Linked DNA regions of Homo sapiens. The protein of the gene in region 3 interacts with the protein of the main gene of each other region in a pairwise test. Each region holds a gene or a part of one and is shown on either strand. Other genes may lie near its edges.

Evidence for each region.
Region 1: the proteins of CCDC116 (region 3) and CARD10 interact in binary tests that used the Homo sapiens proteins (3 or more experiments, as listed by UniProt).
Region 2: the proteins of CCDC116 (region 3) and ZNF655 interact in binary tests that used the Homo sapiens proteins (3 or more experiments, as listed by UniProt).
Region 4: the proteins of CCDC116 (region 3) and PPP1R16A interact in binary tests that used the Homo sapiens proteins (3 or more experiments, as listed by UniProt).

The regions. Positions count from the first base shown.
Region 1 is NC_000022.11:37,495,410-37,502,428, forward strand, and holds part of CARD10 (caspase recruitment domain-containing protein 10), read right to left. Parts: intron 1,770-7,019; coding exon 1,610-1,769; intron 1,152-1,609; coding exon 1,040-1,151; intron 595-1,039; coding exon 351-594; intron 178-350; coding exon 108-177; intron 1-107. UniProt on the Homo sapiens protein: Scaffold protein that plays an important role in mediating the activation of NF-kappa-B via BCL10 or EGFR.
Region 2 is NC_000007.14:99,554,701-99,561,646, reverse strand, and holds the start of ZNF655 (zinc finger protein 655), read right to left. Parts: upstream 3,006-6,946; 5' UTR 2,860-3,005; intron 2,823-2,859; exon of another isoform or gene 2,626-2,822; intron 1,115-2,625; 5' UTR 1,088-1,114; coding exon 952-1,087; intron 1-951. UniProt on the Homo sapiens protein: Probable transcription factor.
Region 3 is NC_000022.11:21,627,764-21,635,772, reverse strand, and holds the start of CCDC116 (coiled-coil domain-containing protein 116), read right to left. Parts: upstream 3,014-8,009; 5' UTR 2,946-3,013; intron 2,794-2,945; exon of another isoform or gene 2,790-2,793; coding exon of another isoform or gene 2,592-2,789; coding exon 2,520-2,591; intron 1,752-2,519; coding exon 1,203-1,751; intron 1,089-1,202; coding exon 507-1,088; coding exon of another isoform or gene 129-506; exon of another isoform or gene 1-128. Other genes in the region: YDJC (carbohydrate deacetylase), read left to right, coding at 5,759-5,922, 6,012-6,171, 6,366-6,465, 6,586-6,763, 6,986-7,355.
Region 4 is NC_000008.11:144,473,861-144,480,988, reverse strand, and holds the start of PPP1R16A (protein phosphatase 1 regulatory subunit 16A), read right to left. Parts: upstream 3,008-7,128; 5' UTR 2,862-3,007; intron 2,639-2,861; exon of another isoform or gene 2,436-2,638; intron 2,404-2,435; exon of another isoform or gene 2,307-2,403; intron 1-2,306. Other genes in the region: FOXH1 (forkhead box protein H1), read left to right, coding at 5,233-5,406, 5,728-5,832, 5,933-6,751. UniProt on the Homo sapiens protein: Inhibits protein phosphatase 1 activity toward phosphorylase, myosin light chain and myosin substrates.

The DNA.
Region 1 (7,019 bases), about 16 Mb from region 3:
GGAGGGAGGGAGTGTCTTCCTAGGTTGCCAGAGAACAGAGCCTGCTAGCTCCCTTTTGGACCCCACCCTTGGGGCCCCCCACCCACTACCTGCCCAGCCGTGCTCACATTACTGCGGGGGCCTCGGTGCCGGCTGGAGGGCAGGCATTTCTCCTGAACTTCTAGGAGCTGCTGGGCTCTGTGGGAGGGAGTGACATCATGTGTGTAGAAAGAAGGAAAGCTCCTCATTTCTCCTCGAACCCCCCGCCCTGTCCCAGAGGATGGTGAGGGAATGCAGGTGGAGGGAGAGCACCCCCATCTGAGCCCTGGCTCCCAGGGGGACCCCATCCCCAGCTCCTGGCTCTGCGTCACCTCTGATAATTGGGCACGGTGCCCCGGTCCAGGTCCCGCAGAGTGAGGGGGTCAACCCGGGTGCAGAACCATTCCTGCCTCCGCTTGTATGCCGAGTCCACCAGTCGAAGGATCTCTTGGGCTTTCACGCAAAGGGCATGGGGATCTGCCCTCTCAGGCAAGGTGAGGTTGGCACGAATGTAGAAGGGCTCGGCACCTGGTCCCTTTGCCCAGGCTTCTAGGGCCTCGTGGAAGGACTGGCAGGCTGGGCATGGATGGGGCAGGGGGCAGCAAGGAGGACAAGAGGAGGATGGTGAGGTCCAGGATCGGCCTTGGTGGGGCCAAAGACATGGCCCTCTCGAGGCCTGAGTTCCCAGGACCCGACCTTCACCTTCTTAGAATGACTTAGGTCCAGAGGGGGCAGGGACTTGCCCAAGGCCAGTGCCTTCTAGAAACAGAGCCAGGACTCAAACCCAGGTCTCTGGACTCCTAATGTAGTGCTCCTTTCACTGTAAGCTGCTTACAGAGGGAGGCATAGAGAAAGGGCACAAGGACAGACAGAAGGAGGCATCAGCAGGCGGGGAGCCAGGAGAAGGGCAATTGGGGCAAGGCTGGTCCCTTCTCAGGTCCTTGGTCCCTCCCCACCCCATGCACCACGGGTTAGAGGACCCCTCTGGGGCCAACAGCTCCGACTCCCAAGCCAGACTTACCCTTCGAGTCCATCAGGGAGGGGAGTGTGGACCCCTGATTCCAGAGCAAGGTTCTCTGCTGGGCCTCGGCTTCCAGGCACGCCCCCTCCAGACCAGCAGCTTCCACCCTTTGCTGGGAGAAAACCCAGGCAGGGAGGGAAAGAAGTGAGCCTCTGAGAGTAGAGCAGCCCAGGGGCTGGAGGAAGACCAGGTGTGGGGGTGTTTCATGCCTCACAGTTCAGATAGCGCCCCCTCAGAAACTGCCATGCCCAGCCCAGTCAGACCCGTCCCCATCCACAGGACGCCCCCATCCACAGGACTCCCCAACCCGCCCAGCTCATCCAGGTCTTTCTCGACTTGAAGCGCAGGAATGTAACGTGCTGTCAGTTGGCTCCACCTCCCAGTCCCTGCCCAATCAGACTTCAATTAAGCCTGGCTGAGCAGGCAACCACAGCTAATCACTGAGCCCGCTTCGGCTTTGACCAATCCCCAGAAGCTCTGCCCGGTGATCTTGATCCACCAAATTAAGGGATGTCCAGCCTGGGCAAAAGCACTGACCCTACCCCCCCAGCTCAGGAGGCAGGGCCTCACCTCTCTTGGTTCCATCCTGGCGGACCCAGGCCCAGACAGCACCCTGCGCACCACAGCCCCAGACCATCTGTCCCCATAAAACGACAGTCCATCTGGTCCCTTGTCCTGCGGCTCTGGGCCCCCTGGGGGGCTCCGGCCAGACACCCGAATAGCCAGAGACCTGAGAAGGGAGAAAGGAGATGAGAATTGGAGTCCAATCAGTACTTGGATTCAGTTCAGCATTCTTGGAAAACCACAGTGATTTCATTTCCCAAGTATGCCATGACTCCCACCCCCAGGCCTCTCCATCTTCTGTGCCCTCTTCCTTGCCTTCTCCACCTGGGAAATGCTGATCATCCTTCAAATCTCAAGTCACAAGCAGCCTCTCCCCTGGACCTGGGCACACGGTGCAGTGGAGCCTGCGTGCCACAGAGCACTCCAACTTTGCCTTGCCACGGCCCTTTCGTTTCCTCCATCAGAACGAACACCTTCAGGACCAAACTTCTATACTGTTCCGCTCTGTAGCCCTGGCACCAAACCCAGTGTCTGGCACATAGCAGATGACTAATAAAAGCTTGTTATATAGCCAAGCACGGTGGCTCACGCCTGTAATCCCAGCACTTTGGGAGGCCGAGGCAGGCGGATCATGAGGTCAGGAGTTCGAGACCAGCCTGGCCAACATAGTGAAACCCCATCTCTACTAAAAATACAAAAAAATTAGCCGGGCGTGGTGGTGGGCGCCTGTAATTCCAGCTACTTGGGAGGAGAATTGCTTGAACCCAGGAGGCAGAGGTTGCAGTGAGCCGAGATCGAGCCACTGCACTCCAGCCTGGGCAACAAGACTGAAACTCTGTCTCAAAAAAAAAAAAAAAAGCTTGTTATGCTCACAGTCTGAGGAGGGAGGTCACCATTAGCACGTGGCACAGATCCAAAGGTGGTTACAACCAGCCGTGGAAGCAGAGAGAGGCTTCCCACGGAAGAAGTACCTAGGCTACACGCTGGTGAAGAATAGATGCACTTTGGTGACAGATGGAGGAAACAGAGTTCCAGGCTGAAGGAATATATCAGAGCAAAGGTGTGGAGGACAGAACACAGGATGCGTGGAAGAATTTAATAATAACAATAGCAGCGAACACTTCCTGGGTGCTTTCCATGTGCCAGACACCATGCTGAGCTCCTTGCCCTAATTCTTATTTTACATCCTGGGAAGCAGCTCCCAGGAAAGGCAAGCTGGAGCCACCCTTTGGAGGGCGTGGAACAGAGGCGTCTGGTTTTCCTCCCATGGGCAGGAGGACCACTGACAATTAAGACGTCACCAAAATCCCCATCATGGTAGGGTTCTGCCTGTCCCTGGATGAGAAAAGGTGAGGCCTTGTGGCCAGGCTCAGAGACAAATGGACCCCAAGTCCCCTGCCAGACACCTTGGCCTGGAGGAGGTGGGGAGACCAAGGTCAGCAGGTGTGCTGGCTGGAGAGGCAGCGGGGCGAAGCATCTCCATCCACCCCAGCAGCTGCAGCCCAGACACAGCTGCACTGCCCCCTGCTGCCAGCCTGGGGAGGGCGCGGCTGCAAGGACCTCCCACCCAATCGGCACTGCTGGGGAACAGCCCCGCCCTCTCAGGTAAGACACAGAGCCAGGCCGAGGGGCTGGACAGATGCAGGCATGGGAGGCATCATTCAGTGCCGCATGTCCTGGCTGCATCGAGGTGGCATGGAAAGGGGGCAGGCCTGAGACCTGGCCTGGCTATGCTGGCCCTGGCTTTGTGGCTGGAGCACACGGTCCGCTCCAAACCCCAGGGCAAACTGCACCCTAGCCTGGGCAAATGAGCCGGCTGCTGAGCGTCAGTTACCACATGCATAACACGAAGCTGACAATGACACCCCTTGCCCTCTGTGGGTGCTGGGGGGTGGGGGGGGGGGGCACATGAATAAAAGATAATGCAGGGAGAGGTGGAAACCAGAGGACTCTGGGGCCTCCAAACTGCAGGCCTGGCCCTTAGTGGCTGGTAACATTCACTGGGTTGCGACTGGGACAGCTGGATAATGCTATGGAATAGAAAGTACAATGCTATCCCCCACCCCGCTCCCGCCACCCCAGGTAAATCCAATTATTATCTCATGACCTTTTTGTTCCAGGCATGTGTACCGGGTTTCTCTCACTGTGGGTTGTGGTCAGATGGTCCGAGAAGCACAGCACGCAGGGTGCCAGCAGGAACTCTGGGGTCAAACGGCCCAGCTGCTCAGCCGCTTGAGCCTCAGCTCCACCCACCTCCCTGGCTACTCGCTGAGTTTAGACATGGGCAGCTCTCAGAACAGGGCCCAGGAGACACTAAGTGCTCTGTCAAAACTAGACATTTACTGGCATCAGGTGTGATTCACAACAAATCACCTCTCGCTTGCCTCAGTTTCCCCACCTGTTTCAAACCCACAGACAACTGACCATCATGGCCTCTCCAGACCAGAGCCCAGTAAGCAGCTGGCATCCAGGCTCTTCCACCAACCCTACCCACCCCACCCACCTCTACTCGCTCCCTCCTCCACACCTCTCCCCTCTGCAATGCAAGCATCAAGGCTGACCTCAGCTTTCAACTCAGGTTTTTCAGGCTCTTCTTGACAACTCCTGCAGCTCCCTGAAGACCCAGCTCAGGCGCCCCCTCCTCCAGGACGCCCTTGCCAACCTCCTCAAAGGACCAGTGACTTCTCTGAGCCTCCACAGACCAGGAATACCTGCTCCCAGCACTCCTCGGAGTCTGCAGAGCCCACAGGGGCTTGCCCAGAGCAGGGTCCAGATAGGGTTCCTCCCAGCCCCCCGCCTCAGCAGACAAGCAGGAGGGGTAGAGAAAGGACACAGCAGGGAGAGGGGCTGCCTGCTCCCCGCTCCTGGGACTGGCTGACCAGCTGGCTGCCTGTGTGGTACTAGGAAGCACAGTGTCCTTAGCTACCAGCTCCCAGCCCCCTCCCCAGTCAGGTCAGGTCACAGGCAGACAGGAACGGGGCAAGTCTGCCAGCTCTGCCAGCTCTGAGCAGTGACAGGCCACATGGCCTCAATGAATGTCCCCCAGGGCCCCGTGGGAAGATATCTGAGTAGTCTGCGTGCCTGCTTGGTACCAGGTCAGGGACCTGATGCTGAGACTGAAGCATGCCACACAGATCACCTCAGTCAATCCTCCTGACAACCCGATGGTTGAGATAAGGGAAACTGAGGCACAGGAAAGTTAACTTGCCAAGAATGGGCACAGCTAGTGGGCCGTGGAGCCAGGCAATGACTTATGGGAACCCTCTCTTTGCAAGGACAGAAGGTGCCAGAGATCCCCTGGGGCCACGTGAGCGAGCTGGGCAGTGGTGAGGCTATGCTGGGGAGACGGCACCCCGAAACCCTCCAGTGCTCTCCATGCTCTGCCTCTCTCACCCAGCACCTCACTTGCCCCATGAGTTCTCCCTTGCTGTCCCCCACCTGACTATCTGTCAGCCCAACCCCCGGTCTGCCCCAGCCCCCCACTATCCACCATCCCCTCCCGGCACCCAGGCTCCAGGAGCTGAGAAGGGCAGGGCAGAGAGGCTGAGGGCAAGAGATGGGCAGGAAATGGGAAAGAGGAGAGAAAATGCCCAACATGGTGCCCAGTACAAAGTGGGCACACAATACGGATGTGAGATCTCCAACAGCTGAGACAGTGGGGAGGCACATCGGAATCTCCAACCAGCTCCGAGGGGCCTGTGACTTGGGACCAATTTCTAACTGTCTCTGTACTTCAGTGTCCTGGTCTGTGTAACGAGGTTAAAATTCCAGCCTTGCAGAGCTGCTCTGAGGATTAAACAACAATGGCGACAATAATCATAACTAACCGCGAGCATATGCTGACATCCACCGTGAGTGTGCTAAGCATTCTAGAAGGGATACTCAAACCCCCATAGTGACCCTAAGGGACAGGCACTATGTGAGCCCATTTTACAGAGCAGGAAACTGAGGCACTGGGAAATTCAGAGACATGCCCAAGGTCCCACAGTAGCAAGTGCTGACACCAAAGCCAGCTCTTCCCACCTCGCCATAACACAATCCCAGGAGACACACAAGTTGCCCCGACCTGGGACCTGTCCGGGCCCTCATCTCCCTCTCCCTCTCCTCTCCGCCTGTCTGCCTCTCTCTCTCTCTTTCTCTCTCTCTCTCTGTCCACCACCTCTGCACCTTCCCCAGCCTGTGTTCTTCCCCAGGAACCTCTCTCCTCCCCAGGAACAGCATGGGCAGCAGAAGTGGCCCCATGTGATCGTGGGGCCTGGGCGGGGCTGGGACGGAGGCTCCTGCTCCCTGGCTGCATCCTGGCGCCCCCTGGACAACAGCCAGGACCCCTGCTGCAGCCCAAACTGGAGGAAGGGAGGAAGGGCCGAGGCGAGCAGGAAGGGAGGCGCCTCCACCCCTTCCCCGAGAAGCACGTCCTGCACAGGCAAAAACAATGTCTCGCTGAGCCCACTGCCGGGGGCCAGGTGGGGGCAGGGCCTGGACACTGGCTGACCAAGCCGCTCCGGAGGCCAGAGGCCCTGGTCCTATGCTGTACCCATCTGCTGCGTGACCCATCCCTCTGCACCCAACACCTCCACATTCCAGCGCTGACAGTCCATGTTTCCTATGCCCTTTCCAAAACCCAAATCTGATCAGGTCACTATGAACCCAGACCTGGTACTTCCCAACTGTGGGACCCTGGGCAAGTTGCTTAACCTCTCTGAGCCCCAGTTACCTCCTCTATGGAGCAGAGATAATCGTCATTATGCCTACTCCCTGGACAAAGAGCATGTTGTAAAACAGCCAGCAGCTGGCCTTGCAGTTAATAACTAAACCCTCCCACATTTCCCAGAGTGTACAAGCCAAAGTCCACACTTTCCCAGCCTGACTCAGGAAGCCTTGACTTTCGCCCTTCCCCCTCGCTCCTCCTCCACAGTCACCGGATGCTCTCCCTACCTGCCCTCTCCTCACAGCTGAGTTCCAAGACCACAATGGCCGTGCAGCCCCCGCTCTGCCCCACCCCTCCCTTAGATACACTGGCAGGTGTGAACAGCGGCCACGCACCGGCCACACTAACAGCACGTCGCCTACAGTGCACTCTGCACTAATGGGCTTTGTGACTCCTGTTATGGACCTGTGGCTGGCCCGGTCACAGGGGCTCCTGAGGTGACCCAAGCCCACCCACAGCATGAAACTTTGCTGGGTGGCTCAGTCCCAGGGACTCAGAGCCAAGGGACTGACAGGCAGGACATTGGGACGAGGACAGCTTGTAAGTGACAACTATTACTAAGCACCTGCTACATGCCTGGCAGAGCTGGGTGCTTTGCTTCTGCGAGCAGAGCCCTCAAAAGACCTCCATGCAAAAAGGGTCATCATCTCCCTTTAGCTACTGAGGAAATGGAGGCCCAGAGAAGTGAAGGGACCAGCCCAAGTCACA
Region 2 (6,946 bases), on a different chromosome or scaffold from region 3:
TCATCACATGACAGTCCTCTTACAGAAGAGTAAGACTATACCTGTTTTGCAGATGGGCAAAGCAAAGCATAAAGACTTGTGGGGACTTGTCCTGGGCTAGGGTTATTTAGCAGACTTCTGACCCTTTCCAGGCACTGTTCTAGACACTTGATCAGCGTTTCTCTTGTGAATGGGTGCTGTCTCAACCAGTGTGTAAGGCCCCCAAGAACAAGAAAGGGTCATCTGTTTCCTCGAAATCTTTTCCACAGTCCCACAATCCCCCACAGCACTCTACACATTGTGGCACTTGATCTGTGTGGGTGACACACAAGTTATTTCAGGCACTAGAGTTAACCACAGGCAATCTAAGACACAGCTCTTATAAAACAAAGGAAGAAAAAGACCAACCTACCTATACGATACAGCAAAGTGTGACTGCGTAGTCAAAATACAGTATATATACATTCATACAGGCATTGTGTTCAACCAAGGAATTAAATGGTTGCTTCCTTGACCAAATTTAGTCTAGTCACAAAACACTGCAGTTACAACAGAATGGATGGCAGGTGACAAAGCAAAGAAAAACTAAGTGAAGGGAACAGGGGAAAGAAAGGTCCTGAACCTAAGAGGAAGTGAGAGCCAGGAAAGGACTGTGAGATGTGGCAAAAGCAGCATATCTTAGAAATTATTCTGGATGTGAGAACTGGGATGAAGTGAAGGTTGCCTGAAGGAAAAACCACCACAGCGAGTAAGCAGCCATCACTCTGCTTATTTGAGAAAGATGAGCTATCCTTAATAAAGGGGCTCAGACTAGGACTGAACTGAGTCACATCTGCCCCCTCTTTCATTCCTCCCTCTAGGGACCATGTTCTTATTCCAGTTCTTGGCCTCTCTCAAACCAGGCCCAGGAGCCCCCTCGGGAGCCCCTCCGCACTCCCACTCTCCCAGACGGAAGTGCTTTCTCTGCCTTACCCCCAGTGAGTCCCTGTTCCATGTCGGTGTCCTGCACAAACTGAGGCTCTGGGGACAGACACTCAGACTGGGTCTCCAAAGACTGAAACTGGACCCTTGGTGACCCTGCTGCTTCCTGGGCTGGTATTTCCTCCATCACTGCTCTGGAGGACAATGACCATCACTGCAAGGTAAGATTAAGAGAAATTACTGTAATAAGTTAAAGCATTTCATCATTTTATATCGTCAGGACTTTGCAAAGGATCTTACACACTATGGATATTCAATAAAAATTAGTTGATAATGATTAACCACCCTAAATAAGTAACAGAAAAATGGGGCCAGGCGCAGTGGCCTGTAATCCCAGCACTTTGGGAGGCTGAGGCGGGAAGATCACTTGAGGTCAGGAGTTCAAGACCAGCCTGATCAACATGGTGCAACTTCTTCTCTACTAAAAATACAAAAATTAGCCAGCGTGGTGGTGCGGGTCTGTAATCCCAGCTATTCGGGAGGCTGAGGCAGGAGAATTGCTTGAATACAGAAGGCATACGTGGCAGTGAGCCAAGATTGCACCACTGCACTCCAACCTGGGCAACACAGTGAGACTCCGTCCCAAAAAAAAAAAAAAGAAAAAAAAGAAAAAGAAATATGGATATGCTTCAGCTTTAAATACTTAAGAACCAAATCATAGAAGAGTCTCTAATTTGGAATTTGTGGCATTAAAAAAATTAACACGGTACAATTTAATAGTGTAAAGCTTTCTGTGGAAACTTTAAAATATTTAAAATTGGCCACGTGCGGTGGCTCAAGCCTGTAATCCCAACAGTTTGGGAGGCACAGACGGGTGGATCCCTTAAGCTCAGGAGTTCCAGACCGTCCTGGACAACATGGTGAAACCCCGTCCCTACAAAAAAAAAAAAAAAAAAAAAAATTAGGTGGCCCAGGCCTGTAGTTCCAGCTACTCCAAAGGCCAAGGCAGGAGAATCGCTTGAGCTTGGGAGGTAGAGGCTGCAGTGAGCTATGACTGCGCCACTGCATTCCAGCCTGTATGACAGCGTGACAGCCCACCTCAAATAAACAAAACAAAATATTTAAAATTTACAATCGTCTTTGGAGGCTCAAGTTGGTGCCCAGAGAAAAATGCTAGTTATGATTGCTCATTTTATTTTAATTTTGTTTTAGCAGAGATGGGAGTCTCGCTATGTTGCCCAGGCTGGACTCGAACGCCTGGCCTCAAGCGATCCTCCCACTTCGGCCTCCCAAAGTGCGGGGATTACGGCGTGAACCACCGTGACAGGCCCGCGTTTACGTAAATAAACTCATTTAAATAAATAAAACAGCAGGCCCCCTAGGAAATGTCTTGGTAACACCGTCAGCCCACTCCGATTTACTACACGGGCTTGGCGAATAAAACTCCACTTTTGGGGTCAGGCCCTTCGCTAACTCAGACCAGCTAGACCGGCCTTTTCCCGGAATCCTGAGAGCAACGCAGGTAAGAGCTGCGGTTCGAACAGGTTTGAGCGGCGTCCTTCAGGCCCAAGGACGCATGAGGGTGCCGTCCCCCTCCCACCACCCTCGCCCTGGGCCCCTGCCCGGCTCCCAGCTCGGTCCTCAGAAGGCCTTGCCCGGCGCTGCCCTCCTCCCACTTCCCTTTTAGGCCAAGGCAAAGTCCCAAAAGGACCAGTGAGGACATACAGACCAGCTCGCACCAGGGCACGGTCGCCGGCTCCTGACGGCGGGGCCCTCGGTCCGCGAGGTGAATGAACCAGGGCTGAAGAGAAACAGGCCCTCCTCGCACCCGGGCCTCCGCGCACTCTCGGGGAAGCGAACTACCGTCGGCCGCGGCCGGACGCCGCCTCCTTCTACTCCCGTGAAGGCAAAACAAGCTGCCACCCCGCTGCGACCCCAAAACGGCTTCCGGGTACTCACCGAGGGGAGGGGCGGGCCTGGCCGCTGTCCTGTCACCTACACACTCGCGCTCGGGGCCACCACAGCCTCTCCCGGGCCGCTGTAGACAGCCCCGAGGCCGGCGCTTCTCGGTGGCACTTCCGGCGACGGAGTGCAGGGTCCCGAATGAGGGCCCCCCCTCCTCCGCCCAGGCATGAGGGTCCCGGATGTGGGTGAGAGCCCCGGATGAGGGTCCCGGATGTGAGTGAGGGCCCCGGATGTGAGTGACGGCCCCGGATGAGGAACTCGGAGGAGGAGCTGGGCCCGCGCGTCCATGATTCGAAGGCTCGTTTTCGCAGCTTTTCCACGTCTTTTTCCGGTCCCACTGCCCTCCATGCTAACTCACTGGGCGTCTCTAGCCGTTATACCAACAATGACTGCGACCAGTGTTGGGAAAGCGCCCCCTGGGCCCCTCCCTGACGCCAGCCCATCCTTGAGACTCCCTGCAAGGAGGCGGCCCGACCCAGTGGGTGCGTGTCGTGGGGTGAGGAGGAATGGCCGACCTAATGGTCCCGCTTCCGTGAGTAGCACAGGGGTGCCTGCTCAGAGTGTAGTACAACGCTGACAAGTAGAAGGCGAGGATTGCGGGGCCTGGGTGAGATGGGACCCACTAAGTTGTGGGATCGAAATCTCAGTAGGTCCTTGGGGAAAGCGGGGACGGGAGGGGAGATGAGCAGATTGGAATAGAACCGAGAGAGACGGAGGAAACTGACAGTTGCGTCCCTGGTGGGAAGACTAAAATCTATGCAGAAACAGGGATAGGCAAAAGCATTGTGCACAAGCGGGACAGGCAGAGCGCCGGGACAGAAACCCTTAGGACATTCTGACACCTTGCTGAACCTGGATCCTTACAGAATATGTCTTGTAGGTGAAGCTAGATCTGCAAGGCATAGGCAAGCCTCTTAGAGAATCAGAAAAGTGATTTGGAAGGAACTTCAGCTGTTACTACTTTGTTTAAGCAAATCAAATGCTGTTCTTTAATGTTACTGGACGTTTCAAATTAAACACAAGAAAACCTGAAGTGTGGCATTTTATATATTTTTTCAAAATGTATCAGCTTCTTGGAGATTCTGATATTCCTTTCCTCTCTTTATCCCTAAGTATCATTTATCCAACCTAAATTCATACTAGGACACAATCTCTCTAGTCTGCAGTGCCCGTCACAGTGGAGTCAGGATCGGAGAAAGAAAATGCACTGCTTAGTCCATTTCATGCTGGACAGCTCCAATTAGAAACTTTTCCTTGTGTTGAACAGAAATACACCCCTGGTGATGTCTATCTATTGTTCCTGTTGACAGGTCCCCAGGACAATAGATGACACAGTACTTCTTCCTCTTCATAACGGCCATTTTAATATCCTAGGAGAGCTAAAGGTTTGGAGTTCTTCCTGAGTTGCCATTTCCCCACCTAGAACCCTTCACAGGTTGTACCTATTAGCAATGTGATGGGAAACCATTTCAGCAGCAAAGGTGAGTGAGCTATGGCAGTGAGGCACATCGCGTCCAAGTTTTAGCTGACTCAGGCAATTGGCTCCAGTGAGAGGACCACAAAAGGTACCCACTTAAAGAGGCCACTTCCCACCAGTACTCATCAAAACATAACAAAGTGTTAAGAAACAGCAGCTGCTATTTTGCTTTTGAGCAAAATTTTCTTTTAACAGTTTGCCAGATGACAGAGGTGGAAACAACTCAAAAAATTGTTACCTTTTTTCGTTTTTGTCTTTTTGTTGTTGTTGAGACAGAGTCTTGCTCTGTCGCCCAGGCTGGAGTGCAGTGGCGCGATCTCAGCTCACTGCAACCTCCAGCTCCCAGGTTCAAGCATTTTCCCTGCCTCAGCCTCCAGAGTAGATGGGATTACAGGTGGGCACCACCACACCTAGCTAATTTTTGTATTTTTAGTAGAGATGGGGTTTCACCATGTTGGCCAGGCTGGTCTCAAACTCCTGACCTCGGGTGATCCGCCCGTCTTGGCCTCCCAAAGTGCTGGGATTACAGGCGTGAGCCACTGCACCGAGCCTGTTTTGTTTTTTTTAGTGCAAATTAACAAACTGATTCTAAAGTTTATATAGAAATGCTAAGGATTTAGGATTGCCAAAACAATTTTGAAAAAGAATAAAATTGGAATACTTGTATTTTTTTAAGATTTTTTTCCTAAAGGTACAGTAATCAGGATGGTATGGTATCAGCATAGAGACAAATAGATCAACAGAGCAGAACAGAAAGTCCAGAAATATGAGGTTGAATTTCTTAAAGAAAAAAAAGTCCAGAAATAGATCTAGATACATACAATAGCTGATTTTTTATAAATTACTAAGGTAATTCTGCATCTAGCTAAGCTGAAAATTAGGCCGAGGATCTGTTTGTAACAGTGACAGTAATGTAAAGGAGACCAATTGTGCAGACTCGGCAGGTCCCCTGAGTCAAAGTCGTGGCTCATACAGGGAGAGGGTGGGATCCTGAGACCTGTTCTCTGTCACAGTGTAGTCCGCAGGAACTTTACCCAACCATCATGATGGTCCATATATTGATGACAAATGCTAGTAGTACCCAGTGAGCAGCAAGTGACAAGGGTCATAAATATCCTAGTAAGACTTCTTACTAAGGCAGTACAGAAACCTGAAGATATGGGCACTTATCAAATGGATGAAGTTTTGGTGGGGCCCAGTGGTTTGGGGACATCACCCAAAGGTAAAAGAAAGTTGTTCCACCTTGCACCCTCTAATCCCAAAAAAATTGGTACAGGTCCTGGTGGGCCCCTTTGGATTTGGGAGGTAGCATATTCTGCACCTGAGAAAACTGTTCCAACACATGTATTAGGTGACCTAAAAAGCTTCCACTTTTTATTTATTACTATTTTTTTTTCTTGACACGGAGTCTTGCTCTGTAGCCCAGGCTGGAGTACAGTGCCGTGATCTCGGCTCACTGCAACCTCTGCTTTCTGGATTCAAGCAATTCTCCTGCCTCAGCCTCCCTAGTAGCTGGGATTACAGGCGCCCGCCACCATGCCCAGCATTTTTGTATTTTAGTAGTGGAGGGGTTTCACCATGTTAGCCAGGCTGATCTTGAACTCCTGACCTCAAGCAATCCACCCACCTCCGCCTCCCAAAGTGCTGGGATTACAGACGTGAGCCACCATGCCTGGCCAGCTTCCACTTTTTATTGGGGCAAGAGAGCACTCTATAGTAAATCCAAGCAACAGTGCAAGCTTACTTGCAAATTCAGTGGTTCCAGAAATATCCTTGATGGATACAGGTGCTGTATGGAGTTGCTGGCAAACCCCAATAAGAGTGTGCATTCGTGTGCTAGGGCTCCTATAACAAAGTACCACAAACTGGGTGGCTTAAACAACAGAAATCTGTTGGTTCACAGTCTGGAGGCTAGAAGTCAGAAATTAAGGTGTGGTTCCTATTGAGGCTGTGAGAAGGAATCTGTCCATGCCTCTCTCCTAGTTTCTGGGGATTTGCTGGATATATTTTGCATTCCTTGGCATCGTAAGAAGCATTTTCCCAGTCTTTACCCTCATCTTCATTTGGCATTCTCCCTGTGTACTATCTCTAAACTTCCCTTTTTTATAAGGATACCAGTCATTAGATGAGGGACCCACCCTAATCCACTATGACCTCATCTTGAAGTAATTACATCTGCAATGCCTCTATTGCCAAATAATTTCACATTCTGAGGTATTAGGGGCTAGAACTTCAACCTGTTAATTGGGGATGAGGTGGAGGTACAATTCAACCCATCATAAAGAGTCACAGCACAAATACCTAAGATTCTGGAGCAAGGTCATGCCTTCTAAGGCAAAAAAACAAAACCCACGTTTCCAAACTCCCAGGTCAGTTACCTCTGCTCTACTGCCACCTCTCCCATAAACTTACTCCTATGGCCTTATAAAAGTTCCCTACAACTAACTGATGGAGACAGAAGAGCCTTGGCCTCTGCACAGATTGGGGATTGGGTCAGTTCAGCATGTTGGCATCTTCCAGAAACAGACTGTTCTTCATTACAGCCCCACTCGCGTTGCCCTGAAGCATACTGGTGAAGAAAAATTATCTCAGTGAGCAATGGTA
Region 3 (8,009 bases):
TGTGACAACACCTGGTAATAGCTAGGCCAGGATTCATGGGCCCCCATCAGCTTGACCCCTGCCCAGGAGGTTTCCACAGTGCAGGGCAAGAGACCTTGACCTTGAGCACCTGTTAGTGACAGTGGCTGCTAGGAGTGGTGGGTCAAGGAGCCCTTCTCCTGCAAACTCATGCCCGGTCCTACTTTTGAGGAGGTCACCTCTGGACACAGTGAGGCGGGAGATGAAGAGGCAACTGGAGAGAGCTCAGGGAGAAGGTAGCAGGAAGAGCGGGGGTAGGGGGAGGAAAGTGGAGGTGTGACAGGGCCCCTGAGGTGGCCCTGGCTGCAGGCCACCTCCACCACAATCCCTGGCGTGGGCAGGGTGAGGTGCAGGCCCTGCCAGGGCTGGGCCCTCTGGCTGGAGCTCAGGGAAACAGGTGGGTTTTGTAATTTGGGATCTGAGTCAGGTGCCTCCTCCCTGGAGTGGAGTGAGGGGCTGGGGACATTGGGCTTCTCCGTGGGTGTCACCTTGAGTTTGAATCTGGTGGCCACCTGGGCACTAGACATGGAGGGGGAGCCTCCTCTGTCCTTGCGTTTTCTCTGAAGCATCTTGGGGCTGGAGACTGTGGGGCGGGGGGAAGCATAGGGCTGCCCGCCATTGGTGGGTTTAGCTGGCTCAGAGCCCAGAGGCGGCAGATCTGAGGTGGGCTCCAAGCTGGTGGGGAACAGAGGACGGCCGTCGCGGCAGTGGGCGCCACGGAGCTTATCCACAGCCTGGCTGACCACGCTTTGCAGGGCAGGGAAGAGGCGGTGGTCAGCCAGGAAGTTCAGCGTGCGATGGGGCTCACGGAGCGGACAGTAGCCAGGCAGGTCGAGGGACTCCAGCTGGCTCAGTAATGACTTGATCTCCTTATTGAACTCTCGCTTGCGGAAGATTGGCTCCTGTTCTCCAGGCCTCGGCTCTGATGCTTCAGGCACGCCAGAGCTTGAGCCCAGCAGCCCTGAGAACCAGGACAAGGGCTGCTCCTGTGTCCACTGAAAGCTGGTCTGGCTACCCAGCGAATCCCACAGCAGGGAGTCCCTCTGGGAGCAGGACTGACTGAGGCCTTTCTGCAGAAAGAGGGTGACTCTGTGAAGTGTTCAGGAGCAGCCAAGCCAGGGCTGACCCTAGCCCTGGGCTCTCCATGGGAGTCCACCCCACCCAGCCATGGCCCTGGCTCTCACCCCTTCCCTCTCCAGCTGTAGCAGCCGCTTGAGGTTCTTCTCCAGCAGGAGTTTGTCCCTCACAGGTGGCAATGAGCCTTGGGCACCTAGGTCACTGTCCCGGCTGTGGGAGCCCAGACAGCCGGCCATGAGGCTGCTATGGCAGTTGGACATGGAGCTGGAGCTGGATGGGTAGTTGTTGGGGTGTCCAGTGCAGAGGGTCGGCCGTACACGGTGCCGGTGTACGGTGCTGAGGCTGGGCCGGGCATGTGCCCGCCGTCCACCACTTGGCACCTCCACTGGGTCCTGCACCTCCACAAGCGGCACCCCAGCCTCCGTCTTCATGGCAGCCATGCGCTCAGTCGCCTTCTCCACCACTGTCTCCAGGCTGTCCAGGACCTGGCTCTCAGTTAGGAAATCCAGAAAGTGGCCAAAGGGCTGAGGGTGCCTCTTGTTTCGGCGTTGGCCCTGGAGTGCTGAGCTGCCACATGTGGATGGTGGGTGTGGCACACGGCCCGGCTTGCAGGCTGGCCGCATTTCTGGGACCAGTGGCTTCTTGGGCAGCTGCACCTGAGCAGACAGGTATGTCACAGGGGGCAGGGGTGCCCTACAGGTGAAGGGTTCCCTGGGGTAACACTAGGACCTGGGTGGGAGTGAGTAGTGGAAGGAGCTGCATTTTGGAGTCTGGAAGCCCTGGGTTTGGACCCTGGCTCTGCCACCTACAGCCTGATGCCAGTGTGCAAGATGGCCCCTCTTGAGGTCCAATGTCCTCATCTGCAAAGTGGAGGTCTATTCAGGGTCACCCCGAAGCTTTCCTAACACCTACATTTCACACACACAAGTCCTGGCTAAGGAGTCTGCAAGCCTGCTTCTGCCCTGACACGTGGCAGGATGAGCAATCATGAATCTCTCGGAGTCTCCCTCCAGCTCCTCATCTGTCCATGCAGCAGGCCATCCCTGTATCCATGGCAGGGCTGCAAACAACATCTGAGGTCTTGAGTGCAGACAACACCTGAGGTCTTGAGCCCTGTGCTACCCGGGCCTGTTTCTCCAACTTGAGCCATAGGCACCTAGTCAACTCCATGCTCCCACTCTAGGGTCCCAGTCCACCCAAGCACCTTCTGGGTCGCTGGAAGTCAGGAGGAAACAAGGAATGAAATTGAGTGTGACAGGGGCAAGCAGTGGGGGACATAGGAGAAGTCAAGGCAATAAGGACTTCACTAAGAGGCCCAGAGAAGTCAATAGACAATGAGAAATGGGGGTTGTGGTCTTGGGTGCCAGGGTTGGTGGGGAACATGTTGTGGCCTCAAGGGTCGGCGCCCTGCTGGGCACACTTACCCGTGCACTGCACATGGAGTGGCTGGCCTCGTCATCGGCCAGGTAACCCGAGTGGTGGCGGCACCTGGCCATGTGGTCACCTGGCAGGTGACCGGGCCTGCTGCCCACCTCTCTCTTCAGCTGCGCATTCCTCTCTGCGTGGGGTGGGGAGACAACCTGAGGGTCTCCAATAGGTCCACGCATCTGTGGCCCTGGAGTCTGCGGGTCCCTCGCTCCCCGCACCCCGCCTCCTTCATGCATCCAGCCCTTCCTCTGCTCCATGGCCCCCATGCGTCTGCAGGCAGGCAGTTTCCAGAGTCATCGGGGTGGAATCGCTGAGGACAATCCTGTCTCCGATCATCTTTGGATCTGCGTGTGCTCGACCCGCCCTCCTCCCAAACCCTGGGCAACCTGGCTTTCACCCCAGCCCAGAATCAACAGACTCACCAGAAACACCGCCTTGCTCCGCACAGGCCAGTACAGTCTGCGCCCTCACTGGAGCAGCTGCACAGTGCGAGGAAGTCGGCTGGCGGCCTCCACTTGCTTATTTGCATACCACATCCTCATTGGTTCTTACCGAGGAGCTCGTCCACTTCCCTCTCCGACACAATGGTTGGGGGCGGGGCCCACATTGGCCCCACCTCCAATTCTCTGGGCTCTGCCCTCCCACACTCGCCTGGGAGCCGCAGGCTGAGGATGCTGGTGCCCACGCTCCCCGCTGCCGGGAGGACCCCCCACCCACCACCGAAGCTGGGGCTAGGCTCTTTGATCTGCTCCTGCCCCGAGGGGAGCCTAAAAGCCAAAGCCACGTCTTCCACCGGTGGCACAAGCACCTTCCTCGTGTCCTCCTTGGTTGCTGCGCAGCCCTGGGCCTCCTGCTCCTGTTCGTTTCCAGGGGCCTCTGCCCTTCCCGCGGTGTGCACAGCCCCAGGTTCTGCCTTGAGACCTCTCCCCTCTGCAGTGGAAAGAGTGCCGGCTCTAAGTCACAGACCTAGCTTCAGTTCCTGGCTCTGCTCTTTCCTGCCAATGTGACTCAACCTCTCAGCATTAGTCCCACACTGTAAATGGGCTTGAGTGTTCTTCCAATATGGGAGTATGGGATTCAATAAAATCTCCCTACAGCACACCCAGTAACCCAGTGGAGCCTTGTGTATTCTTTAATTAATTAATTTATTTATTTGGAGACGGGAGTCTCGCTCAGTCGCCCAGGCTGGAGTGCAGTGGCGCAATCTCGGCTGACTGCAAGCTCCGCCTCCCGTGTTCACGCCATTCTCCTGCCTCAGCCTCCCGAGCAGCTGGGATTACAGGGGCCCGCCACCACGCCCGGCTAATTTTTTTGTAGTTTTAGTAGAGATGGGGTTTCACCGTGTTAGCTAGGATGGTCTCGATTCCCTGATCTTGTGATCCGCCTGCCTTGGCCTCCCAAAGTGCTGGGATTACAGACCTGAGCCACCGCGCCCAGCGGAGCCTTGTATATTCTTACCTCCTCTCCCTCCCTCCTTTTCCCCTTTGCTCAGTAATACCCCACCATGGTGTCACTTCTTCCAAAAACCTTTTACTGTGAATTCTGCCACGCCCTACGCAATTCACAGTAAACCCCATTCCAGACTCTACCATACCATGTTGCTACTTATTTTTCTATCAGATGGTGCTTCTTTGGGGCCAGAACAGAGGCAAGTCACCCTTAATCTCTAATACTTTCAGTGTCTGGCACCAAGTAGGTGCTCAATAAATGTCAGTCTCCTCCTTCCCACCTGCAGACCCTCGGGACCTCTGACCTTTCCAAGATCAGCTTCCAGTGGAGAACGGTGGTTGGTTGAGGTCTGACAATTCACCAGTCACTATAAACACATCAGTCCTTATGCCAAGAGCATGGCTGAAGGACTCTATGAGGCTTTCAATCCTCACATGCCTCACGAAATATTGTTCCTCTCAAGCTCTGCTCTGTCCTCTCAGCTCTGGCTACCCACTAGGTCAGGGACAGAGAGGACATAGCAGGCCTGGGTGCTGGCCCCGAGGTGTGAGGTTCAGTCTTAGCTCCACTACTCCTGGCAGGACCACACTTTCGCTCTCTGAACCCCAGTTTCCTCATCTGTGAAACAGGAATGACATTACCAATTTCATAGCCCGGACACAAATACCACACTTTCCATGGGAAAAATCAAGACTGTCACATTGCAATGGAAACTGTGGCTGCCAACCATAATGACTATTTATACAGTCATGGGTAAGGAAAGCTTTTCTGGACCAAAGAGAAAACAGTGAAGTTATGAATGTAAAAGCTGTAGCCTGGCAGAGAGCTCAAGATGGAAACTGGAGATAATGTTTTCTCAAATGAAGCCTTAGTGTATATGCTTTCTTTCATTTTCTTAGTGTCTAGAGCTCAAGAAAAAAAAAAAATCAACAAATCAAGAAAATGCCTGCTCTTAGAAAAATCTGCAAAAGATCAATAGGCAATTTGAAAAAGAATAAAAATAGCTAATAATATGAAAATTTTCATTCGCACTGCTAAGAAACTACTAGAATGTGATAACATTGATATAATCATCTTTATGTTCTCAAAACAACACACAAAAAAGTTGGGTTGGGGAGAAAGGGAGTTGGGTGTGTTTATTTGCTTAGAGAAAACACTGGAAGGACACAACCCAGAAAGTTTACAATGGCAATCTCTGGGAAGGGTAGGAGATTCTTTTTTTTTTTTTTTTTTTTTTTTGAGACGGAGTCTCGCTCTATCGCCCAGGCTAGAGTGCAGTGGTGCGATCTCGGCTCACCACAACCTCCGCCTCCCGGGTTCAAGCCACGCTCCTGCCTCAGCCTCCCGAGTAGCTGGGATTACAGGCGCGTGCCACCACTCCCGGCTAATTTTTGTATTTTTAATAGAGACGGGGTTTCCCCATGTTGGCCAGGCTGGCCTTGAACTCCTGACCTCGTGATCCACCCGCCTCGGCCTCCCAAAGTGTTGGGATTACAGGCGTGAGCCACTGCGCCCGGCTTCCTTTTGATATTTTACATATTAAATATCACTTTTGCAGTCAAGGAAAGTTCCGCATTGCAATGAATCCATCACTGGTCTGGTTAGCGCGGGAGCAGTTGCCGGGTCCTTGCAGGGGCACGCCGGACCGCTAGGTGGCGAGAACAAAGGCGAAGTGCAGCCGCACCTGGGCGTGTGCGTCGGGGCGGGGCCCGGGCAGCGTCCGGGGGCGGGGCCTGGGCTGTCCGGCCCACTCCCCTGGGAGCGCGAGCGGTGGACCCAGGCGGCCATGTCCCGCCCTCGCATGCGCCTGGTGGTCACCGCGGACGACTTTGGTTACTGCCCGCGACGCGATGAGGGTATCGTGGAGGCCTTTCTGGCCGGGGCTGTGACCAGCGTGTCCCTGCTGGTCAACGGTGCGGCCACGGAGAGCGCGGCGGAGCTGGCCCGCAGGTGAGGGGAGGGCCTCTAGCAGGGCGGCGATCGGCTTGGGGCGCGCGGCTCCGCGGCCGCTAGTGCTCCAGCTCGCGCTCCGCCCTCAGGCACAGCATCCCCACGGGCCTCCACGCCAACCTGTCCGAGGGCCGCCCCGTGGGTCCGGCCCGCCGTGGCGCCTCATCGCTGCTCGGCCCGGAAGGCTTCTTCCTTGGCAAGATGGGATTCCGGGAGGCGGTGGCGGCCGGAGACGTGGATTTGCCTCAGGTGCGGAGCCGCAGCTACAGGAGGATGCTCGCGAGGACCCCCAGAGCTCCGCCCGGAGGGTACTGTGAGGCCGTTAGGAGCTGGCGGTGGATGACTTCCGCATTCAAACACTGGAGCCATCACACGGAAGCACGAGGAGGGTATCCTCGGCAGCTACTCCCGGTCGCTCAAGGTGTCTCTCGCTCGCCCTCTAGGTGCGGGAGGAGCTCGAGGCCCAACTAAGCTGCTTCCGGGAGCTGCTGGGCAGGGCCCCCACGCACGCGGACGGGCACCAGCACGTGCACGTGCTCCCAGGTGCGTGGTTAGTGATCCCAGTTTGGAGGGCGTTACTCCCAGGCGGGGCTGGGGGAGTAGGGGAAGTTCGATGCCCCCAGGTGAAAGGACGTGCTCCTCCCTGACCCGCTCCGCCCGCAGGCGTGTGCCAGGTGTTCGCCGAGGCGCTGCAGGCCTATGGGGTGCGCTTTACGCGACTGCCGCTGGAGCGCGGTGTGGGTGGCTGCACTTGGCTGGAGGCCCCCGCGCGTGCCTTCGCCTGCGCCGTGGAGCGCGACGCCCGGGCCGCCGTGGGCCCCTTCTCCCGCCACGGCCTGCGGTGAGGCTCCCCGCCCCGTCTCCTACCATAGCTGCCTCTGTCCCTCCGCACTGGCTGTTCACCTGGCTAGCTGTGTCCGTTTCTCAACCCGGAAGCGAGTCTGGCGTCGACCGCTGCCGCCACCCCAGTTACCCCCTCCCACCCCGCCGTCCCTTCCCTAGCCTACCTAGCCCTTGGCCATGGCCCGGCCTGGTCCCACCTCTGATGTCCCGCCCCCCACAGGTGGACAGACGCCTTCGTGGGCCTGAGCACTTGCGGCCGGCACATGTCCGCTCACCGCGTGTCCGGGGCCCTGGCGCGGGTCCTGGAAGGTACCCTAGCGGGCCACACCCTGACAGCCGAGCTGATGGCGCACCCCGGCTACCCCAGTGTGCCTCCCACCGGCGGCTGCGGTGAAGGCCCCGACGCTTTCTCTTGCTCTTGGGAGCGGCTGCATGAGCTGCGCGTCCTCACCGCGCCCACGCTGCGGGCCCAGCTTGCCCAGGATGGCGTGCAGCTTTGCGCCCTCGACGACCTGGACTCCAAGAGGCCAGGGGAGGAGGTCCCCTGTGAGCCCACTCTGGAACCCTTCCTGGAACCCTCCCTACTCTGACCCCCTACAGACAACCAAGCACTAATCCCCTTAGTACCAAGAAAGGGGAGCCAGGATTTAGTCCTGGCCCAGCCCAGAGCTGGGACCTGGAGCACGATCTGTTGACTTCCCTGGGTAGGACACTGCCACCTCTGGGCTCAGGTCCTCATGCCTCCAAATGGCATCTAGAGTTTGAGCAGCCTTCTTGGCTGCAGGCAGGCCTAGCCTGTGGCAGCGGGCTAGGGCCCGCAGAGCATTTGGTGCCCCTCCATGTTGCAATGCAAACACCTTCACCACTGGGGCAGTGGGGAGAGATGGCTATATTAATAAAATAACGTGTGTCTTTCAAACTTGGGTGGTTTATCAGCTGTGCCCAGGAGACCCTCAGAGAAACAAGCACGGACAAAGAGCAGCTCCCTCTTGGCTCAAACCACTCCAGGAAATGGCCCATTCTCCATTCTGGTTTTGTTCATGCTGCAATTTTCTTTATTCCTTTTTAGGGTGGGAGTGGGAGATTGTCCTCACCAGGCTGCTTTGGAAGAGGCATAATACTATAATCTCAGTATTGATTTAAGAAGTCACCTGTAGGCTGAGTGTGGTGGCTCACACCTGTAATCCCAGCACTTTGGGAGGCCGAGGCGGGCAGATCACCTGAGGTCAGGAGTGCGAGACCAG
Region 4 (7,128 bases), on a different chromosome or scaffold from region 3:
TGAACCCAGGAGGCGGAGCTTGCAGTGAGCCAAGATCGTGCCACTGCACTCCAGCCTGGGCGACACAGCATGAGACTCCGTCAAAAAAAAAAACCCATCAAACAAAACCCATTAAACAAAACCCATCACACAAAACCCATTAAAATAGGTGCATCTTACTGTAAGTTACACCTCAATAAAGTTTGATGTAAAAAATCAAAGCATGGGCTGGGCACAGTGGCTCACGCCTGTAATCCCCGCACTTCGGGAGGCCAAGGCAGGAGGATAATGAGGTCAGGAGTTCGAGACCATTCTGGCCAACACGGTGAAATCCCATCTCTACTAAAAGTACAAAAATTACTGGCCGTGGTGGCATGCGCCTGTAGTCCCAGCTACTTGGGAGGCTGAGGCAGGAGAATCACTTGAATTCGAGAGACGGAGGTTGCAGTGAGCTGAGATTGCACCACTGCACTGCAGCCTGGCTACAGAGCAAGACTCTGTCTCAAAAAAAAAAAAAAAGATATAAAAATTAACTGGCATGGTAGCATGTGCCTGTAATCCCAGCTACTGGGGAGGCTGAGGCAGGAAAATCATTTGAACGCGGGAGGCAGAGGTTGCAGTGAGTGGAGATTGTGCAACCGCACTCCAGTCTGGGCGACAGAGTGAGACTCCATCTCAAACAAACAAAAAAACAGAAAGCCACATGGTCAGCAAAGCCTAAAATGTTTGCTGCCTAGCCCTTCACAGTAAAAGCTGGCCAACCCCTGGTCTAGCACATTTATTTGGTGCTACCAGCTTCATCATCACCGCCACCTTCATCAGCTGCTCCTTCTGTCTGGAAAGTTCTTCCACCGGATCTTAGGACAGCATGCTCCTTTGTGGGACTCGGATCACATCTTAAGTGCAACCTCCTCAGAGATCTTCTGTGGTTACCTTGTCATTCTCTTATCTCATCACCTTGTTTTAATTCTTGACATGCCAGTTACTGTTTGTTTCCCTGTTGCATCCTAAGAACTTGGCCAGTTCCTGACTCATAGGCAGCACTCAGTAAGTGCAGTGAGCTGAACAAGTGAACAGCTGCTGAGCCTCTGGCACAGGGGTCCCAGCACAGGATGTGACATGGAAGGCTCTGAGCTCCTGGCTGAGCAAGTCTGATGAAAAGGCCTCCCTTTAGGTGTGCGTGCACCAGTGCCAGGAGAGCCTCGGCATGAAAGAAGGGCCTGGAACTGCCACCCAGTTCTCATTTTGGCCAATGGATAGATGTGGCACAAGTGCTAGGGTTAGGACACGCTCGGGGAAGAGCAAGGGTGGAGCTGGGGGTGCTGGTAGTCTGTGGGGTCACCTGAGACTGAGGTTCCTAAGCTGCATGCAGTGGAGAGCTGTATCAATCGGCTGTTCATTCAGACCAGAGGTTCAAGAATCCCTAGAACACAGACCCCAAAGTACAGTCATACAGGAGGAGCCCCCTTGCTAGGTGCCAGCCCAGGCAACCCTCGGGGCAAAGCAGAGTCCAAGTGCATCCCAAGCAGGTGAGGGATGAGGCCAGGACAGGCCAATCAGAGACACGAGGGATGGCCCCAGCCAACAGGGAGGAAATCCAGCTCGAGCACCAGGAGGGGGAAGGACCCCCTAAAGCCACCCCCATCCCAACCCCAGCCCGGGGGACTTGGGGCAGGGGCAGGCAGCTGGCCCTGTAGAGCTCTGAGCGTCCACCACAGTGACAGGTATGGAGCCAGCATGTGTGCAAGTCCACCAGGCAGCCCCCAGCCCCTCAGGCAACCCAGCCGCACGCCGCCGGAGCTCCTCTCGGCGAGTCGTGGCTCTGGGTCCCTGAATCAGGCAGCGCAACCAGAGGCCTCTTCAGGAGGCCCAGGGTACTGCAGGCAAGACCCTTCTCCCAGAGAAACCCCAATACGTCCAGGAAGCAACTGGGGCGCCAAGACGCCCAGGAGGGCTCACTGCTGGACTAGACACACTTTGAGAAAGGCAGCGGTACCCCCGCCTCCACCTCCACCCCCAGGTAGGAATCCAGGAAGAAAAGGAAGGCACAGAGGTTTGGGGAAGGCTAACTTTGCTCTGTCTCCCCTAAGCCTAGAATGACTCCGTACACGGCTCCCCTCTCTGCACCCATGGAAATTAATCCCACCGTGCCCCGGGCCTCCGCTCTGGTACAGACAGGGGCCCACACCAGTCCTGGACGCTCCCTCCCAGGCGGGGTGCTTGCTTAGTTAGTAATTCTTGCCCTGATCCCAATTCCTGAGGGGTGGTCCGGACGCCCCGCACTACAAGTGAGGTCATTTGAATCCCTGAAAGTTGAAGGAACTTGCCCCAGTGAGACTCCACTTTCTCCTTCAGCCTAGCTCCAAGGCCCACACAAAGCTTAAGTTTGGGTAAGTCCCTTCTCTGCGGCCTCGATTTCCTCATCTGAAAATGAAGACAATTCCGGAGCTGTCTACCTGACCGACGGGCTGCGGAGAATCCACACACCTTCGCCTTGGAACAAAACGCGAAGCGCCCACCGGCAGCCTTCGGCTCCCTGCCTTTCCTGACCGTTGGCACCTGCTGCCCTGGGCCTCAGCCAGCAACGCCCAAGGCGGCCCGGCGGGACCTGTGCCCTGGGCGCCCGCGTGCCGGCAGCCGCGTCTCCCGAGGGCCCCTCCCCGGCCTCCTCCGTCGCCAGCCTCCTCTCTCCCTTCGGTCTCCTCCTCCTCCCGCCCTTCCCGGCCTCCTCCCTCTCCTCTGCCTCATCCTTCCCCGGCCCGGCCTCCTCTCTCGGTGTCGACCCAGTGCCCCTCCTTCCCGGGCCCGCCACTGCTCTCCCTGGCCGGGGCCCCTCTCCCTCGCTCCGCTCCCGCCGCAGGACCCGGGAGTCCGCGCCTCACCTCGCGCCCCGCGCCGACCGCCGCACAAGTGGGTCCGCTGGCTTCCGCGGGTCAGTGGGCCCCGCGCTCCCTGAGGCGCTGCGGGGGCGGGCCCCGCACCCGGCCCTCGCCATGGCAACGCTACACTTCCGGCCCGCGGTACCCATAGCCGGAAGCCGCGGTGCCCCGTGGGAGCCGGGGGCGGAGCCTGGGAGGAGGAAATGTCGGGGGCGGGGCCTGGGGAGGGACGGTCGGGGGTGGGGGCCAACGCGGACAGCTGCGGGCGGCCGGGCGAGTCCTCCGCGGCTGGGACCTCCTTGGGGCGTGGGTGGGACGGGAATGGCTCAAAGTGCTCCAAGGCTCCCGGGACGGTGGTCATTGATTTATGCTGGACAAAACCGAGTCATCGCGGGCAACGGGACGGGCGCCAGCGGAATGGGTGGCAGCTTTGGGGGTGGTTTCGGGCCCAGGACAGTGCGGTCGGAGAAGAGCGGTCAGAACTTGGGGAGCCTCCAGCGCCCCACCAAGGAAGCGCCAGTGGAGAGGGGGGTGCCTTAAAACTTACGGGAGACCGGGCGCGGTGTCTCACGCCTGTAATCCCAGCACTTTGGGAGGCCGAGGCGGGCAGATCACGAGGTCAGGAAATCGAGACCATCCTAGCTAACCTGATGAAACCCCGTCTCCACTAAAAATACAAAAAAATTAGCCGGGCGTGGTGGTGGGCGCCTGTAGTCCCAGCTACTCGGGAGGCTGAGGCAGGAGAATGGCATGAACCCGGGAAGCGGAGCTTGCAGTGAGCCGAGATCACGCCACTGCACTCCAGCCTGGGCGGCAGAGTGAGACTCCGTCTCAAAAAAAAAAAAAAAATTATGGGAAAGGCCCGGCCCGGTGGCTCACGTCTGTGATCCCAGCACTTTGGGAGGAGGCCGAGGCCAGTGGGTCACTTGAGCCCGGGAGACCAACCTGAGCAACATAGGCAGGCCCGGTCCCTACCAAAAATTAAGAAATTAGCTGGGCTCTGTGGCGCACGCCTGTAGTCCCGGGACGCTGAGTCGGGAGGATCGCCCTAGCGGGGGAGGTGGAGGCTGCACGGGGCCCAGATCGCACCACTGCACTCCAGCCTGGGCAACAGAGTGAGACCTTGTCTCAAAACAACAACAACAACAAACACTTGTAGGAAAGAACGACGCCTTGCTGACCGAATGGGGTGAAGTGGCCACAAGTATTAGCCTCATGAGGCACAGGATTGTGCAGCCATAACCTAGGGAACACAGCAGAGAGGTGGTGGCAGGAGTCCTGAGGGAAACCACGTGGCGTCTGAGGGGAGAGTCAGAGATAGAAGGAAAAGGGGCACCACCCGACCGGGGGTGTGGGGGGCAGGAGCAGTGTGGTACCCCACATACAAGGCCCCTTGCGGCCCAGGCCTCCTCCTCCTGGACACTTGCTGCCTGTCCCTCCCCTCCACACCTCAGGGTGTGCTGGACCCCACCGTATGCTGCAGATTTTCAGCCCTTTGAGGTTATCATGGTGGAGGCTGCACAAGAAAAGCTGAATTCTCAGAGTGAAGGGCAAAAGCATATCCCTGGGCCCCCGTGTGTCTGGGGGCCCTTGGCCTGGTGCCAGCACCAACCACCGCTGCTAATTCCCAGAGCTGCTATCCTCTTGGGCAAACTTGCCCCTTGTGAGGGAGGAGAACCTGGGCTTTGGGGCAGGATACACAATACCAGCCTTGCTTGGGTGGAGGAGCAGAGATGGCTAGGGAGGAGGAGGTGAGCGGTCCACCTGGGCTCCTGAAGCAACTCCCAGGAAATCAGTTGAGTCAATGTGTCCCCCTCTTGTTCCTAGGGTGCGGGCTTCATGGCCTTCTCCTCCAGGAAGCTCCACCTGATCATGTCCTGGGTGGATATCCAGCCCCCATAGTTCAGGGCCTACTAGCAGCTGCTAGATCTTGAACTCCAGGAGCGCCCCACGCCTTGGGAGCTTGGCATGGGCTAAATACTCCCCCATTTGTTAAATGGGGTCCTGAAACCTGACCAGGGAAGACGGGATAAAGTAGCCATGGGTCATCGCAGCCCCTTTGAAGCCGGGCCTGGCCACCCAAAGGCAACTCAGGGGTGGAGACTGAGGCCTCAGGAGAAGCCCCCACTAGAATGCTCTCTGCCCCTCCCTTCCAGATTAACCAAAACCTGCTAATTGTGGAAGCCCTCGGCATGCTCCCCTCCCCCACAGCCTCTTCCTCCCTTCCCTCCCCTCCCCCTTCCATCCGAATGATAAAGGCCCCAGCCCGCCTGCCCCAGCCCGGCCTCAGGTCCCGGCCCTGCCTTCTACACTGCCCCACCGCCCTGCACCCTCCACCCGGCCAGGCCCCTGCCCACGCTGTCTACCGTCCCGCATGGGGCCCTGCAGCGGCTCCCGCCTGGGGCCCCCAGAGGCAGAGTCGCCCTCCCAGCCCCCTAAGAGGAGGAAGAAGAGGTACCTGCGACATGACAAGCCCCCCTACACCTACTTGGCCATGATCGCCTTGGTGATTCAGGCCGCTCCCTCCCGCAGACTGAAGCTGGCCCAGGTGAGCGGGCCCCGGCCCCCACTCTCTCTTTCCCCAGACTCGTTCCCCACCCACTTCCAGGTTCAAGCCCTGACCCCCACCCCTTCCTAGCCCACCCAGGTATGCCAGTGGGACCAGTCCTGAGAGCTGAGGGCCTCAAGGCACGACCCTTCTCCGGGAGCCCCTTGCCCTCTCTGCCGCGCTTCCGCGCAGAAATGTCCTTCTTCGGGGACAGCAGGGGCCGGCACCGCGCGCCCCTGAGCCCGGTAGTGGGGGAGGGGTAGGGCGCTACCCCCTCCCCGTCTGGGCTCACGGCGCCGGCCGGCCGCCTGGCGGTTTCAGATCATCCGTCAGGTCCAGGCCGTGTTCCCCTTCTTCAGGGAAGACTACGAGGGCTGGAAAGACTCCATTCGCCACAACCTTTCCTCCAACCGATGCTTCCGCAAGGTGGGGCAGGCCAGGGTCGGAGCCCGGGGGCGGAGCGCGCGCGGAAGTCCTGAGCATCCAAGGTTGGGCAGCCCCACCCATGTCTGACCCCCACACCCAGGTGCCCAAGGACCCTGCAAAGCCCCAGGCCAAGGGCAACTTCTGGGCGGTCGACGTGAGCCTGATCCCAGCTGAGGCGCTCCGGCTGCAGAACACCGCCCTGTGCCGGCGCTGGCAGAACGGAGGTGCGCGTGGAGCCTTCGCCAAGGACCTGGGCCCCTACGTGCTGCACGGCCGGCCATACCGGCCGCCCAGTCCCCCGCCACCACCCAGTGAGGGCTTCAGCATCAAGTCCCTGCTAGGAGGGTCCGGGGAGGGGGCACCCTGGCCGGGGCTAGCTCCACAGAGCAGCCCAGTTCCTGCAGGCACAGGGAACAGTGGGGAGGAGGCGGTGCCCACCCCACCCCTTCCCTCTTCTGAGAGGCCTCTGTGGCCCCTCTGCCCCCTTCCTGGCCCCACGAGAGTGGAGGGGGAGACTGTGCAGGGGGGAGCCATCGGGCCCTCAACCCTCTCCCCAGAGCCTAGGGCCTGGCCTCTCCACTTACTGCAGGGCACCGCAGTTCCTGGGGGACGGTCCAGCGGGGGACACAGGGCCTCCCTCTGGGGGCAGCTGCCCACCTCCTACTTGCCTATCTACACTCCCAATGTGGTAATGCCCTTGGCACCACCACCCACCTCCTGTCCCCAGTGTCCGTCAACCAGCCCTGCCTACTGGGGGGTGGCCCCTGAAACCCGAGGGCCCCCAGGGCTGCTCTGCGATCTAGACGCCCTCTTCCAAGGGGTGCCACCCAACAAAAGCATCTACGACGTTTGGGTCAGCCACCCTCGGGACCTGGCGGCCCCTGGCCCAGGCTGGCTGCTCTCCTGGTGCAGCCTGTGAGGCTCTTAAGACAGGGGCCACTCCTCCCTCCCGCTCCCACCCCCACCTTGTTGACAGGGAGCCAAGGCGAGGCGGCTGTCTGCGACCACAGCAGCCTCGAAACACCAGGCAGCAGCCTTGCTGGGAGTCCACGGTGTTTATTGGGCCACCCCACGCATGGCCGTGGCCCAGCTGGGCACAACCCTCACCCTGGTCTGTCATGCCTGTTTTTCCTACACTCAGCGGCAAAGCTGCAGGAGCAGGGCTGAGCCTGGAATAGCCCTTCCTAGTCCCCTCTTCTCAGCCCACTACCCATCCATCAGTCACCAGCCGTCACCTCCCCTCCCGTGCTCCAGGCTGGGGGAGGGAGAGCCCAGTGGTGGATCCAGCCTGAAGTC